Regions from separate parts of the Homo sapiens genome. Here region 2 is linked to region 1. The links come from fine-mapping of genetic effects on gene expression. A gene starts in region 1. The other region holds a variant in brackets. All regions are shown on one strand. Distances are from middle to middle. Region 1 holds the start of CARINH (colitis associated IRF1 antisense regulator of intestinal homeostasis). Region 2 overlaps CARINH (colitis associated IRF1 antisense regulator of intestinal homeostasis).

The links. PIP is the estimated chance that this variant, and not a neighbour inherited with it, causes the effect.
Region 2: its variant is fine-mapped to the expression of CARINH in blood mononuclear cells (TOPMed, PIP above 0.99).

Annotation. Positions count from the first base shown.
Region 1 is chr5:132,407,555-132,415,890 of GRCh38, reverse strand. It overlaps CARINH (colitis associated IRF1 antisense regulator of intestinal homeostasis), which reads right to left and starts at 4,962. Exons shown (of 4, transcript NR_161242.1): 1 at 4,850-4,962. RefSeq lists silencers at 73-261, 4,664-4,953, 5,024-5,323 and an enhancer at 5,564-5,613.
Region 2 is chr5:132,457,466-132,465,801 of GRCh38, reverse strand. All of the region lies in intron 3 of CARINH (colitis associated IRF1 antisense regulator of intestinal homeostasis), which reads right to left. Among named protein-coding and RNA genes, the nearest start is that of IRF1, 29 kb to the left of the region's middle. RefSeq lists enhancers at 1-861, 903-972, 862-1,826, 7,892-8,121, 8,049-8,336. The variant A/G (reference allele first, on the strand shown) is at 3,916.

The sequences.
Region 1 (8,336 bases):
TCATTTCTGTCCTTAAACAAATGTATTTTAAAAGCAAACCTGACTCGGTGTAGTGGCTCACACCTGTAATCCTAGCACTTTGGGAAAACAAGGCAGGCGGATTGCCTGAGCTCAAGAGTTCAAGACCAGCCTGGGCAACATGGCGAAACCCCGTCTGTACTAAAAATACAAAAAATCAGCCGGGTGTGGTGGTGCGTGCCTGTAGTCCCAGCTACTCAAGAGGCTGAGGCACAAGAATCGCTTGAACCTATGAAGCAGAAGTTGCAGTGAGCCAAGATCATGCCACTGCACTCTAGCCTGGACAACAGGACAAGACTCTGTCTCAAAAAACAAACAAACAAACAAACAAACCTTATTTAAGTGGAAAACCAACATCATATGCCATAAATGAAGGCAATCATAATAGGTTTTATTGGAATAAAAAAACACTGTGGTTAAAATATAGTCAAAATACTGCTACCCCTTTGCCCATTCTTTTATATAAAATGGGAGATTAGAGAGGCTTAGAGAGGTGTTAAAGGTATGCTAGCACCAAGCTAAAGTTTTTCACCTTCCGTTGATCAGAAGACTGAAAAGGAATTGAGCATGGGAATAACTTTCTCACTGTGAGTCAGTGTTAGACAATGTGGCAAATGTGTCCCAACTAGAATTACCCTGCGCCACCTGAAATAACCTCATATGAAAACATGCCTTAGGACATATTCCTGGAAGTAGAACTGGGATAAAAGGCATGGACACTTTAAGCAGCTTCTGATAACCACAGCCCAAACACCATCCAAGTTAGTTTTACCACAGTTTTACTATGACTGTGTCCATTTTACTTCACGTTCACAAATATTAAGTACTATAAACAAAATATTAAAATAGTTAAAACGTTTCAGCTTTTTGATGTAAAATATCCAGCAGCTGAATCTTCAAAGGCTATTTTCATGCTCTTCTAGCTAGTCCCTGACCCTAGGGCAGGGCTATTTTATGAACCTTTAATTAGTGGTAAGCTTACAACAAACTGATACTGCACTTGGTTTCACCAAGCTGAAGTAAACTCTGTAAAAGATGAGGAAGTGACTTTAGCATTTGCAAATATTTCAGAATGCCTTTGTGCCAGCAAAGGTCAAACAACGATCAGAATTGCATGGATTCCAAAGTATACTTTTGGGAAATAAGAGACTCAGAGAAGCATTACTCAAGATACAATTCACTATGAATTTTCAGCAATTCAATGAAAAGTCTAAAAGAAATACATGTTTAAACTTTCCTATCCTGGTATAATATGCAATTGCACAAATAGGTTAGATTGTAGATTAATGCAATTGTTAATATTTCTAACATAGAAAAAGGAAATTGTATTTTGAAGCAAGAAGAATTAATAACAATTGGAATTGTTCAGGTTATTTTAATAATTCCCAGGCAGATACCTATGTGTATATGTGCCTGTGGGGAAAAGGTAAGGAAAAAGAGACGTGAGAAAACATACTTATGTAATTCCAGCACTTTGGGAGGCTGAGGCGGGTGGATCACTAGGTCAAGAGATTGAGACCATCCTGGCCAACATGGTGAAACCCCGTCTCTGCTAAAAATACAAAAATTAGCTGGGCATGGTGGGACCTGTAGTCCCAGCTACTCGGGAGGCTGAGACAGGTGAAGTGCTTGAGCCCGGGAGGTGGAGGTTGCAGAGAGCTGAGATTGTACCACTGCACTCCAGCCTGGGTGACAGAGCGAGACTCCATCTCAAAAACAAAAACAAAAACAAAAAATAAAAAAAAAGATTTATTATGTTTGGAAGGAGGTTATAGGTTCTGATTAATTTTTGCCAGAGACAAAAATACAAGTTTATCTAAGCTTAAGAACTAAATGATGGCCTATTGTAAGATATAGAACTTCCAACTCACTGAATAAAAAGAAGGAAAGAAGAAACAGGGGACAAATACACTTTGATGAATCCATAGAGTCACAAGGAAAAAAAAAACACACATGATAAATACATGGCAAAACAAGATGGCAAAAATAAGACCACATTTATCAGTGATCAAAATAAATATGAATGAATTAAATTCCATTGTTAAAAGACCAAGACTTTCACCCTAAATGCCCATAAATGGAAAATGGATAAATTATGGTATGTATTCCATTTTAATGGATGTGTATGTGTGTGTATGTATGTGTATGTGTGTGTATACACCACAGAAAGAGGCCCATGAGTTTCAGTTTAGAAAGATGTAGAAATATATTTGTATAAGCATAGGAAAGGGTCCAGAAAAACACACCAATATGATATCTGTGGTTGCCTATAAAGAGCAGTTTACCTATGAGTTTCAGTTTAGAAAGTTGTAGAAAAATATTTGTATAAGCATAGGAAAGGGTCCAGAAAAACACACCAATATGATATCTGTGGTTGCCTATGGAGGCTGAAGTGGACTTTCCTGTCTCACTTTACAAATGTCTATACTGTTTGAATTTATTACAAAAGCATATGACTAAAGAAACATGAAAAAATGGAATAATAAACATAAGGGCAGAATCAGCAAAATAGAGGACATAGAGGACCAAAAAAAAGGTGGTTAACAAAACTTGAAGTATTTATTTGAAAGTAGACAAACCTCTAGTGAGACTGATCAAGAATAACTGACAGAAGATTTTTTAAAAATGAGATTACAGAAAAAGGAAGAAATGACAAATAAAACAGACATTTTAAAACTTATAAAGGAATAATATAAACACATGATAATACATTTGAAAATACAGATGAAATGAATAATTTCTAGACAATAAAAATTGCCAAATTTGGCACAAAAATGTGAATAACCACTTAAGAGACTCAAATAATTTTGAAACCTCTTCCCCATAGAGTTTCAGACCCAGAAGATTTTACAAGTGCCTCCTACTAACTTCCAAGGAGCAGAAAATCTCTATCTTAATGGAGTTGCTTTAGAAAATAGAAAAAAAGAGAAAACATTGCCCAATTTGTTACTTGATTTTGAAATGTTAAATATGGACTGTACAAATAAAGAAAAATACAGGATAGTTTCACTTATAAACATAGATGTTAAACTCCTAAATAAAATATTATCTAATCAAATACGAAAGTGTATTACAAATACATCATGATAAAGTAATTCACCACATTAGTCGATTGTGGAAGAGGTTACTAGTGCTCACCAGTCTCTCGTTCTTTTCCTCCTGGGAACACCACCAGGCTACATTTCCCAGCCACCTTACAATTAGGTGAGACCCATGAGACTAGTCCATGCCAATGGAATGTGAATGGAAGTGCATCTAATTTTCTGGCTCATGAAAACAGCAGCATTTTCTCTATTTTCTTTTTTTCTTTCTTTGTTTTTTTTAGACGGAGTTTAGCTCTTGTTGCCGAGGCTGGAGTGCAGTGGCGCGATCTTGGCTCACTGCAACCTCCGCCTCCCGGGTTCAAGCAATTCTCCTACCTCAGCCTCCCAAGTAGCTGGGATTACAGGCATGTGCCACAATGCCTGGCTAATTTTGTATTTTTAGTAGAGACGGGGTTTCTCCATGTTTGTCAGGCTGGTCTCAAACTCCCGACCTCAGGTAATCAGCCCGCCTCGGCCTCCTGAAGTGCTGGGATTACAGGCGTGAGCCACCGTGCCCGGCAAGAGCAGCATTTTCTAAAAGCAATCAGTACTCAACACCATCCTGCTGAGGTAGGGCAGCGGCGGACTCCATGTTTTGAAACTTAGGAACTTAGACCATCTTTTGTCAAATTCAGATGGTTTTCTCAAAGTAAAGATCATTCAAGTTTTGTTTCAGTAATGGGCCGTATGATCAGATCTGTGTGATTAGGCTGAATTCATTATTATTGAGACAAAAATTGAGTTAAAGGGGATTCTTGGTATTGGCCTGCAAAACCTGTCATAACTTAAATGTAAAGTTTCTGATGATTTAGTCACTTTACTCTCAGCTCTTAGCTCTTTCACTCACCTGTCCTTGTTCTACACAACCTGCCTGATGGGTAACTTGAATACATATTTTCTCTCTTCAGGGGATGGGAACGCCCTAAGGGCAGGGGCTGTTTCCACAGCCCTGGGGTGGAACCCCCTTCCTGCATACCAAGAATGAGTTGGCTATACTTGACGAAGGGCAAAGACAAGGTGGCACGCATCTTTCATGCTTCTGCTGGCAGATGCAGTGGACTGGAAATTTCCTGGTCTGGGAAGGACTCGGTCTGTGAGTGCACCTATCCCTGACATCTATGCTAGCCCCGGGATGGGGGCCCCAGCAGAGTAAGGCCCTGACTTCACATGGACAGGGCCAGGGCAAGGGGGCCACATCCTGGCCTAGTTGCTCTCCATGCCCGTGATCAAGGGAGATGAGCTGCCAGCTTGCTCGGTCAAGGAACACTTGGAAGGCACTCCAAGTGCCCCCAGGTGCACCAGATCTAGGAAACTTAAGCAAACTACATGAGGTATGGGGTGGGGCCCAGTGGGAAAAATGAGTCTGACAGGTCAGAGGGAGTAGATTATGAGCTCAGGTTAGGCATTCTGTTCAGCATTTTACGTACACCCTCCCACTTTTGATTTTTACCAACACCCAGGGAGGTCGGTGCTCTACAAAAGGGAAAGGCGTGCTCAGGTGGCCCGACTTGCCACGGTTCCAGCTCGACCCCGGGCTGCTAGCCCCTTGGCACGCTTGTCTGAGGCCTCCCAGGTCTTCCAGCCTGGCCTGGAGGCTCAAAGCCACGAAACCCAAGGGTGCCGCTTCTCAGGCCCTCCCCGCCCCCACGGCAGAACCCCTGACCCTGCCCGGGTCAAACGCCTGGCGTCGGGCCCGCCGGGTCCGCAAGGAGGAGCCCGCGAGGCGGCCGCGAAGGGGCTGTGCTTACCTCGCCCGGCGCGGGTTGCGGCCCCAGGGCCCGCGCTCCAGGCTGGCGGCCGCTGCATTCTGCGCCCCTCGCCTGAAACGGCAGCTGCGCCAGTCCTGGCCACGACCGCTTTCATTTTCCTCAACGACATCGGCAGGAAAGCGAAAGCGAAACCCTCCGGGAGGCGGGACCGGGGCCGAGCGCGCAGTGAACGCGGGGCGCGCGGCGGGCGCGGGCCGGCAGCCAGAGGCGGGGGCCCCGGGCTCGGGTCTGCGCGTGGCCTGGCCCGGTGGCGTTCGGGGTGGAGCTGGGCCAGCCGAGTGCCCGAGAGCTAGTCCGCCACGCACACCTGCCTCGGCGGGACCCGGGCCCGGGCTGGGCGGGAGGCTGGGCAGGCCCGCCGTAAGTGGAAAGGCGCCCGCGGCGCTTCGGCCGACCGGGACAGGTTCCTCCATCTGCCCTTCATTCAGCGTTTACTTGGGCCTGTGGCTGGCAGCCGGCCCGGGACCTGACCGCTGGCGGCGCCTCGGGCTCTGGCCTGAGGAGGCAGATGGCAGCCTGAGCAACTGGGACCAAGCCTCTGAGGAGTCCCCGTTGGAGGGGACTTGACCATGAGGTACCAGGCATCTCATCTGGGGTCAGCGGAGAACCCAAAAGTCAATGACGTCGGTGAAATGGGGGTCCCTTCATCCGATAAGAGAAACTGGAACAGCAAGCCTATGGTTTGGACTCCCTGGTCTAAGCGGTGCCCATCAATATCTAAACATTTAGAGATTCCAGGTTTCAGTGTCTGGCCGTCTCTTACTGTCAGTGATTTGGGGCAAAATATTCAAGTAGTTAGACTTAATTACTTCCCCTGTGGGATGGGAATAATAATAATCATACCTACTGCCAGAATTTTAGGAATGAACAATAGAAGGAAGAAAATACTTAAAATTTTCTGACAGCCTCTAAGTGGGTTCCTTGAGGGCAGCAACCAAGTCATTTACCTGGATGCTTGATAGACATTCTCTAATGGCCAGTCCATCAACTTGGAGCTATCTCCATGATAACAGGTTAGTTGTCAAAGTTTGGACAATATTATCTGGAGTTTAAAGACTGAGGAAGCCCTGCAATTTTTTTTGGAAGGTGTCTGAAACTTAGCCTGACAATTAGCCCCCACAATTATGCCACGGAACCAGGTTTTTGTTAGAGTGGAGCATGGCCACAACGTTTGATGGACATTCCTACAGCGGTGTTCAGCGCTGGCCACTGAGGTCTGAAAATACTTTTGCAAGCATTTCTATTCACTTGCTTTTAGAAAACATTGGTAAGACACCATACTCCAAACACAGTTTGCCCTGTCTGTACGTTTGTTGCAAAGCAAACATAAAAGTTTTTGCCATAGAGCAAACACAGAGCAGTCTGTTATAACTGGAACAAGAAACCAAAATGAGCTATTAAATCTGCCCAGAGTCACTTTGGTTTACCTGTTTGTAATTTGGGCACATTCCCTGCAAGATGGAGGCCCTGGTCTGTGACTGATGTAGGGGCTTGTATGTGTCCTTGCAATAGTTCCCTCAAGAGCAGGTGGGAAAGTGGGGCAGGCCAAATGATGACCTTAGAAAAACAACAGCCTGTTTCTCTGTCCAGAAGATGCTACTTTTAGTCTGTAGTATGAAGGAAAAAGAAAAAACAAAAAAGGCAAGCCTTGGAGCCTCTTCCTCCTTATAGGACAATTCTTGACTCCAAGATAGCAAAGTAGAGTTAAATCTGCTTCTGCATAAAAACTATGTTTGGGAAGATGAAGATCAGGAAAAGACAGGAAGAGATGTAAGCAGATAAGCCAAATCCTGGTTACCTTTTATAGACATCACACATGTGAACAGAGAGCATCAGGAGGTCAAGGCCGGCCTGATGTTTTTCATCTTGGCAACTTCCCAAGGTCCAGGTTTGGTCCTTGACTTTGTGGGGCCAAAAATCTCATCTGACTTCCAGTGTACCAGAGTCGATTAGCACTGTTGCATAAAGTCAGAATGACAACTGACTGATTTCATTCACTATTTGCTAGAGAAGTGCTATGCTAAATGCATTACATGCATTATTACCTCATTATTTCTCCCTACTATCATGTGGTATATTATAATCTATTTATTTTTCATTTGGGAGAAAAAAAGATGAAGGAAATCCCAAGGTCACATAGTTACTATGTATGTTAGTGGCAGGGTTTGAATCAAGGCCATCTGACCCCAAAACCTGAAGCTTATCCATTCCTGTTAGAAGCAAGACTGTCGGGAACACTGGACTCGAGGCCACCTGATGAACACATTCTCTTCTTGTAGCCATGCAGTTTGGAGCCCCATAGTCAGAAGGTGGCTTAGTGAGCCTAAAATCAGAATCGGAAGAGTGAATTGTCTGACTTAAATGTTTGATGATATCAGGCTCGGGCAATGTGGGATGTCTCTTTCCACAACACAGGTCAAAACCTATAGGAAGTACTGTTCACTCATCCCTGCTGGCCTGGCCAGCCCTTCTCCCTAGATGGGGCCTGGTGGACACCATCTGTTTGTGTCGATGAGGCTCTCTGTATTATGGTACCCAGGCCGCCTCTCCTCAGATGGACATTTTTAGATAGAGCAAGGCGTTACTGAGTAACATTACTCAGTAAGGTCTCTCAGCCCTTATTTTTCTTTATGGAGACATTTTGTATCTTTGCTCTGATTGGCTTGATTTATAATTTAACTTCTAAAGGACAGCTTTCTATCCCACCTTTTGGAGACAGCTCTGTTTTCCTTACTATCCTTCCTGATCTAACCCTGGAACAAAAGTTTGTGCAGTAGCAAGTTCTGCAACAAGAACTTTATCCAGGCCTGCACTGATAGTCAGTAAAGACACAAAAGAAGCAAAAGTCCAAGTCCAAGGCCAGTCCCAAAAGACTTTACTACAGAATCGGGCAATGGAGGGTTGGGGGGCGGGGCACAGCTGATGATCACGCAACCCAGCTGAAGAATGATATAAATGGAATGAAAGCATGGTGCAAGCAGCATCTAACTTAGGAGTCACTGGTTAGGAAAAAAAAATACCTGATGTGTGATTCAGATAAAAATGAAAAAAATAACCCTTTTAGATATTTCATTCAACAAATATTCTGTGGCAACTACAAAATGCAGCCACCCTGCTAATGCTGGGGATTCAGTGATGAGCAAAAATAAATGTGGTCTCTGCCCTCGGGAAACACACTTGAGTGAGGTAATAAAGCAATCAAATAATTGGTCAAATATAGAATGCCATCCTAAATACTACAAGATGCATTTGACGCTATAAGAGGGAATGCCAGAGGCAAAACTCCTCTAATGGGCCACCTGTACTCTGGGGCTTCCTGTCAGTCTGGCCAGCACTTTCTCAGAATGGCTCTGCAGTCTGAGGCTCTTCCTATCTACTCCTCCATCCTTCCCTCTTCTCTTTCACAGGGGTCAGACCTGCATTACGGTGTGGGGCTCTCTCTGCTTACTCTTGCTTCTGCTCCTCT
Region 2 (8,336 bases), 50 kb before region 1:
CTAGCCTGAGCAACATGGAGAAACCCCGTCTCTACTAAAAACACAAAAATTGGCTGGGTGTGATGGTGCATGCCTGCAATCCCAGCTACTCGGGAGGCTGAGGCAGGAGAATTACTTGAACCCAGGAGGCAGAGGTTGCGATGAGCCGAGATCACGCCATTGCACTCCAGCCTGGGCAACAAGAGTGAAACTCCATCTCAAAAAACAAACAAACAAACAAAAACACTGTCATGCCCCCACCGCCAGCTTGTCTCCCTTTCTTTTTAGGTGTGGCCCACAGAGCTCAGTGCCCTGCCTATCTGGAAGAGGCTGTGAAGCCCATCTATGTAGGTAACGGAGGCAAAGCAAGGGCTAGGGAGAGTGTGCCATGTGGGACACCTCCCCCTATCACCTCCCCACTGCCTGCACACACTGGGGACAGTCAAAGCATTCCTCAGGCTGGGGGTAGGAGCTGTGGGCGGAAGAGCTGGGGCATCTGTTCACAGAATCCTCCCCTGAAGTTGCTCGGAGGGGCTGGGATGCAGTCCAGACACTGGGGAGCCTGATGCAGACGCCTCCCTGGAGCACTGTCCTTCTCTTGGGCTCTTCAAGCCTGCCCTCACTCATGAACACATATTTTTTGTGTGTACTTCCTGCATGCCAGGCACTACCCAGGCACTGTGGATGCACAGTGAACAACACAGACCAGGTCCACGCGTCACAGACTTTACTTCCCTGAGGGAGGCAGACATTAGGCAAATAATCACATGGATCTCTGAAAAACATAGCTCCTACGAGAGGGTGCAACTTCAGGGGTCTTAACCTACAAAGGAGTGTGTGGGATTAGGGGGTTAGGGCAGCTGTTCTAAGGATGAGACATTTCAGGTGAGGAGAGGAATGGGGTGGAGTTGGCAGGGGGGCTGGTTCTCGGCTCTCCCCGACTGCCCTCCTTCCCCGCATTCCAGTCGCTTCAGGAAATCTGCCGCTTCCATGAGAGCTTCTTTGGTGGTGTCTTCCAAGCTGCTACCAAGCGATGGCTTTGCCAGCTGTTGCTTTCAGTGTTTGTGCCTGGGTGAGCACAGCCGGTATGAAATGGCCCAGATTAATCGAGAGCCAGGCCCCTCCTAAAGTACCTCTGAAAAGAGTTTTTCAGCATAAGCATGACATTAGCTTTTCCTAGAGAGGAAACCACCCCCGGGGCTGACAGCAAGCAGGCCAGGCTTAAAGGAAGCAAGTGCAGCGCTGGGGCCCCTCCATGCCCTGCTGCAGACAGGACACCCTCACTGCCTTCCCCCAACATGCTCCCCCACTCCCACTCCTGCTTCTTTCTCCCTGGGGGACTCTCCTTGTGGAAAAGAAACCCCAACAGTAGGGGGAGCGAGTGAAACTGGAAAATGAAACTGTGATTTCCAGTTTCATTTTCCAGTTTCAATTTAGAAGCAGCTCTGCCAGCTTTCCAGTGCCCGTGCCTCAGGGCATCACAGAGGAGCTGAGGGGCAGGAAAAAGTGTTCCAGCCAGCAAGCACCCTGCTCCCTGGGCACCCTCAGAGGGCAGGTACTGGACTGGTAGAACCCACTGAGCAGGGAGTTGTTGCAATGCCGATTCCTGGCTCTCCAGGCTCTGAGGCCGTACGTTTGGGCCCTTTGGTGATTCTGATGCAGGCTGTGGACCTCACCATGGCAGTCGTGGCCTCAGAGACCATCAGAACAGCTAGAGCACACCTGAGGCACGGCCTCATCCTCTCCAAGTCACTTCCTGCCACAGATGCTCGGGAAGTGCTGCTTCTCTGTGCAGCATCTCCTGCCCTCCTCCATCTGGTGTTGGAGGCATCTTAGATGTTCTCTGGGACCTGAGGTCTGTAGGAAACCCCGGCTGTGGACTTCACACAAGGGTCGCTCTTTCCCACACTCCAGGTTTCCCTTTAAGCTGCTAATTTGTAACAGGCATTCATAGAAACAGAATAAGATAGAGAAATTCTATTAAAGGACCTTATGTGCTTTTGCTCTGTCTGTTGCTCCATTTATTTGCAATTTATAGCCTAATCCAAGAGGATTTAAGGACAATTAAATATTTCTTTCCCCTCAGTGTGTGTGTGCGAGTGCACGTGTAAGAGTGTGTAGGGGTTGGGTCTTCCAATGTACCTTTGCCCTGGTTTGACCGTGGGGGGAGAGGGTGGGCAGGTCTCCAGGCCTGCCAGATGTAGACCTTTCCTAATGTCTACAGCAAATTTGTTCTTCAGTGTTTCTAGTATCAGTTTTTGATCAATCATTAATCAAAGTTGCAATAAAAAGATAATCTTCTCAGGACTAGGCTATAAAGGTCCTGGCTGCAACCTTAAAAAACCCTTCTGTGGAGGCCTCAGAGCCAAGAGAAAAGGGCGATGTGTCTGTGGCTGGATTTGGAGGTAAATGAACGTGCTGTCCCTCTCTAATTGGTGTGCACGAACATGAACTTCAGTCACTTGCGTGGCTATGGCCTCTTTCTTCATCTCTCCCTGCCAGTGAAGCTGGTGGTGCCCTGGCTCCCAAGCCAGGTGGCAAAGCTGGGGAAGGAGGCTGTAGTTGGGCCCAAATATGGGGGTCTGGGGGCACCTCCACAGGTTGTGACCACTGCAGCATGCTCTGGGGCCAGGCCTATGGCAGTGGAGGCAGGACAGCCCCCAGGACCACAGAGCCCCCATAGTGGAGGGAGCCACTACTTGGGCGGCTCAGCTCATTCCTGCTGACTTGCTGCTGTACAGGGCAGAGGGGTGCCTGAGACAAAGAGGAGACACACTTCTCCCACGAGAAATAAAGCAAGCAGCTGTTCCTCTCTTGGGCCCAGCAGGGGTCAGAGGCTGTGGGACCTTCACTCCTTCCCTCTCAGTGGAGAGGGCAGATCTGCTCTTTGGGGTGTGAGGGCACAGCCTCCTGACAAGCTGGAGAAGCAGGATTTAAGAGCTAGAATCAACGGAGAATGTGAGGCCCAGCATCAGGTTCAAGAAGCAAGGGGATCAAGGTTGGGGGGGAGGCAGGGAGCCTGAGCCTGGCGCAGCCCAGACCAACAGACTGAGGAGTCCAGAGAGCCAACATGCTCACTCGGCCATCGCTAAGATGTGTAGTGTGTGAGAAGGTGTGAGAGGTACTCGCGTTTCTCTCTCCAACCCCTTCCAACATATTATTGGGTCGTGGGTGCCATGTTTTTAGTAGACACATAAAATAAATGAGTATTTTCAGAGAAGTGCAACCCTGGAGGTGCAGGGGAGTGAACTCAGCCATGAGAAATCATTCAAAGGATTGACCTATGGAACAGGGATAGACTTGCTCTCCATGGCTCCAGCAGGGAAGCAGCAGAGAGGGGAACCTTTCCTGAAAGTCCAGTGTGACATCTGAAGACACACACACACACACACACACACTTTTTTGAGAGAGAGAACGAGAATGAAAAGATACACACTGATCTTTCAACAGTCGTTGTCTCTACCTGGTGATTGCGAATGATTTTAATTTTTTTCCTCTTGTGCTTACAGTATTTTCTAAAATCTCTAAAATACACCCAAATTACTTTCTTGTTATGGCAAAATAGACATAAAATGTCTACATCCATTTTAACCATTTTTAAGTGCAGAGTTCCATAGTATGAAGTACATTCTCACTGTTGTGCAGCCATCACCACCATCCATCTCCAGAACTTTTTCATCACCCTCAACATAAACTCTGCATCCACTAAGCAGTATCTCCCTGTTCTTCCTCCTTCCAGCCCCTGGCAACCATCCTTCTACTTTCTGTCTCTATGAATTTCACTATTCTAGGTACCTCATATAAGTGGGATCATCTGGTATTTTTCCTTCTGTGTCTGGCTTATTTCACTTAGCATAATGTTTTTAAGGTTCATCTATGTTATAACATGTACCAGAATTTCATTCCTTTTTAAAGCTGAATTATGTTCCATTGTAC[A/G]TATTCACCATATTTTGTTTATCCACTCCTCTTGTCATGGACATCTGGGTTGTTTCCACCTTTTGGCTATTGTGAATAATACTGCTACAAACACTGGTGTACAAATATCACTTTGAGTCCCTGCTTTCAATTCTTTTGGGTATATTCCTAGAAGTGGAACTGCGGGATCATATGATAACTAAGTTTTTGAGGAACCACCACATTGTTTTCAACAAAGGCTGCATGATTTTACGTTCCCAATAGCAATGCACAAGGGTATCTATTTCTTCACATCCTTGCCAACACTTATTTTCAGGTTGTTTTTGTTGTTTTAAAATAGCCATCCTAACAGATGTGAAGTGGTATCTTACTTATTATGGTTTTCATTTGCATTTCCCTAATCTAAATTACGTTTTAAAATCCAATCCTCTCTGAATTGAACCCTTTGTTCTTTATTTCTCAATAAAATGGACCTTGCCCCCTTTTTTTCCTTCTTTGTACCTATGCTCTGCATTTTAAAAAATTGTGGCAAAATACATATAACTTAAAACTTTACCATCTTAACCATTTTCAAGTGTAGAGTTCAGTATTAAGTATATTCACATTGTTGTGCCCTAACCCAAATATAGTATATAATGGCAAAAAGAAACAAAAGGCTCTCTAAAGAAAAAGAAAGCCGTGAATTCTTGGACCCCAGAGATGTTCACAAACAGATTGGATCAATCTCAGCAGGGACTTTCATTCATCTTCTGAGCATCTCTGCTGGGCTGGGCTCTGTGCCAGGCAGGGGTCTCCGTGGTGAGTGTGGCCTGGACTCTGCCCTTGGGGTTCAGCCTCTGTGGGGAACAGTTATACCCAAGGGCTGCTGTGGGCACAGAGGGACACCCTGTTGTGTGGGTGCGGCATTGGGAAGGGGCATAAGTGAGGTGGCACATGAGTTCAGGTGGGAAGGATGAGCAGACATGTACATGTGCAGAGAAGGGAACTGGCGTGTGTGGCTGGGCTGTGGCAGCACACCTCACAACCACCATTACAGGAGCATCTATTAATCATTTATGTCTGTCTCTCTACTTGATTATAAGCTGCATGAGAGCAGGGCTGATGGTTTTGTTCACTGCTGCATTGCTGCCATGCCCAGCACAGGCAAGTGTAAAAGAAACACTTGCTGAATAAATGAGTGGTTGATGACGAGGAAAAAGGAGACATTTCTTTCCAGAATCTTGGCTGTAAGCAGCAGACAGCATGGCTGTACTCCACGGGGAAGGCAGGATGGCAGGAAGCATTATACAGGTGATGGAGACAGGAGCACAGCAGGAGCCAGTGGAGAAGAAGAGTTTGAAGATTCCCTGGTTGAGAGAATGGAAGGGCGTAATTGCTGGGGAGAGGTCCCTGAAGAAAGGGGAGAGGCTGGGATGCAGGCTCAGTGGAAGGAGAGGAGTCTCCTTATGAGACTCAGATGGCCAGTGTGAAAAAGACAGAAGATACCAACTGCTGGTAAGAATGGGAAGCACACTGCATGGGGAACTCTCCTACACTGCTGGAGGCGTGTTCTTCCTGTTATTCTAGATTCAGACAGCACTCTGGTCGCTGGTTGGTGCAGGCCACCATTTGGGCCAATTAGAGGAACCCCAATATCTGCACTTGGACTATCAGAAATGAGAGCTCTACGCCCAGAGCAATTTCCAAGATGGGCCTGAATCCATGAGTCATGGCACTACATGGAGCCCAGGGTTGGCTCTGAGCCTAACAGCCTCCAAAATGTCAACTTTGTTCACGTGCCACTTTGTCCCTCATCTCATGCCATGCAGCTGGCAGGACTTCAGTTGACAGAAGGTAGACCCTGCTCTTTTCAAAAAGCACACAGGACAGGTGCTGATAGGCCAGCCCCTCCCACTGAGCTCTAGTTACTGCGGTGAACTTCACCAGGAGGTTCAGCGCCCACTGTGGCTCTGCCTGAGGGGCCTCTGTGCACACTCAGTCCAGGCACTAGCATCCCAGCGCCTGGCCAGTGGTCCAACTCCAGACTCACTACACAGAGCCCCTTGCAACCGATGTGTGCCAACATGGAGCCCACACAGGGCAGCTCAGCGTGACACCTGCACAGCTCAAGACTGAGGGAAGGAAATGCATCTTCTTTCTCAAGTTGGAAGAGGCTGTACTGAATTACCAAATGGCATTATACTCTCTGTGGGGGAGCACAGATGAGTGTCCGGCAGTCCCTGGGATGATGTTACAGTCCAGAGGTGGGGATGAGATGAGCCCAGATGATGCAATGGGGATGCAATCAAGACACGATGTCATTAGAAGCCACAGTGTGTTCTCTCATGCCACGTGTTTCCCAGCTTAGAGGAGTAAGGGGTCGGGGGGGGGAGTGGCCCCCTGGGACCCTGCTCTAGGACGCATGCATAAGGACCCACATGCAAACGCACAGAATTCAAGAGCTAGCCAGGCCTGGACCCATGTAGGAGAGCCCCACTGGCTGATTTCCAATCTGGGACAAAGGCCACAGACAGGAGGCCTCCCTTGGCCACACCCAGGTCCCCAGAACATATGCTCCACTGTCCCCAGTCTAACCACAACCCCATATGAGCTGTGTCCCATTCATGTTGGCCTAGAAACTGGGAAGTACCTGGCATGGGGCCCTCCGCTTCCTCCCCATGACTGCCTGGAGCTCTGGGGAGACCACCAAGGGGCCATTTTTGTGGTTAGGAAATGTCTGTGGCAGCTGTGGACACCACAGGCCCTCCCTGGACCCTTCTGAAGTAGAGGTCACATTCCTAAAGATTCTTAACTGCCAGCTCCAATTGCTTCTTCCTGACAGGCTCATCTTAGTAGGGAGTGAATATAATCTTTTCCCAGTTCCACGAGGTCCTCTCAGATCCAAAATGCTCTAAGTTCAAAGGCAAATCATGAAGAAAGGGAGACGCAGATACTAATTTGTGGTTTTAGTTCAGTGGTTTTCCACCTTGGCTACACAGTAGAGTTACCTAAGGAGCTTTTTAAAAATACTCATGTCCAAATATTCCAACAGGCACTTTGCAAAGAGAAGATCTAAATGGCTAACAAACATATGAAAGGTTGCTCAGCTGTATTAGTCATCAGGGAAATGCAAATTCAAACCACACTGTGATACCACTACATACCTGCCAGAATGGCTAACATGAAAAAGATAGAAAATATCTATGGTTGGCAAAAATGTGAAGCAACCAGAACTCTCATACATTGCTGGAGGGAGTGTAAATGGGTACAGCCACCTGGGAACATTATTTGGCATAAGGTACTAAAGCTGAACATACTCATACCCATGCTTCCCCAGCAATGGATATACATGTACTCCAAAAATACACACTAGCATGTCATTGCAATAGTCAGAATAGTTCCGAATTATAAATAACAACTCGAATATCCAAAAATGCATCACAGTAGAATGGATAAATCGAGGAATATCCATAGAGTGGAATACTCTATAGCAAGAAGAGTGAATAAACTGCAGCTCTAAGTAACAACTTGGATGAATCATCTCACAAACACAACAAGAGGATATATACTGCCTGATTCCATTTACATCATATAAAGTTTGAAAACAGGAGAAATGACTGTACACCATTAGAAGCCAGAATGGACATTAGCCTTTGGAGCCAGGTAGTAAGTGGAAGGGGTACCAGGGGTTGCTGGTGATGTTCTGTTTCATGATTTGGATGCTGGTTACTCGGGGTAAATTCATTTTGTGAAAATTCACTGAGCTTTACACTTATGGTTTGTGCTTTTTTTTTTTTTTTTGCATGTATGTCATCCTTCAACAAACACTTAAAAAATGTTTGAAAACCCCATCAATTCAGTCAGACTCTTTGGGTGGGAGCAAGATCCAGGCATCAGTATTTTTTAATATCCCAGATGATGGTAATATGCAGCCAGGATTTAAAGTCACTGGTTTAATATCTTGGGAAAAGCAGATCCACTCAAGACCTCACAGGGTCCTGACAAAGGCCACTTCCAGCTCAGTGGAGTGAGACACTGGGGTGGGAAGATGTCCATTTTTTGGATGTGGGTCAGTCTCTTGCACAGGCAGAGGTATTGCAGCATGCTGTTGTAATGTGTATCTTCCTTGGCAGTGTCTGTTGAAAGCTGGTTGCATCAGTTTGTAATGGGGTGTAATGGCAACAAGGTGGGCCCAGCCCCCCCCAGGAAGTGGATCACTGAGCACAGCTTCTACAGGGCCATTTGTAGAGAGGTGGCAGCTGGGCTTCCCAGGGGCTGCCACCCAGGGCAGAGCCAGTGCTGAGGCTCTGACAACCTCGGCAGGGTGGGGAGAAGGCCAGACTCAGGGTGTTTATGTTTGTGGGTAATGACAGTCAGCTCTGGGCTCCAGATGATGCTTACTCCCTGGCCTCTGTGTTCAGATTAGGAACTTGCAACATCTTGCTGAGGACCATGTCAGGCTC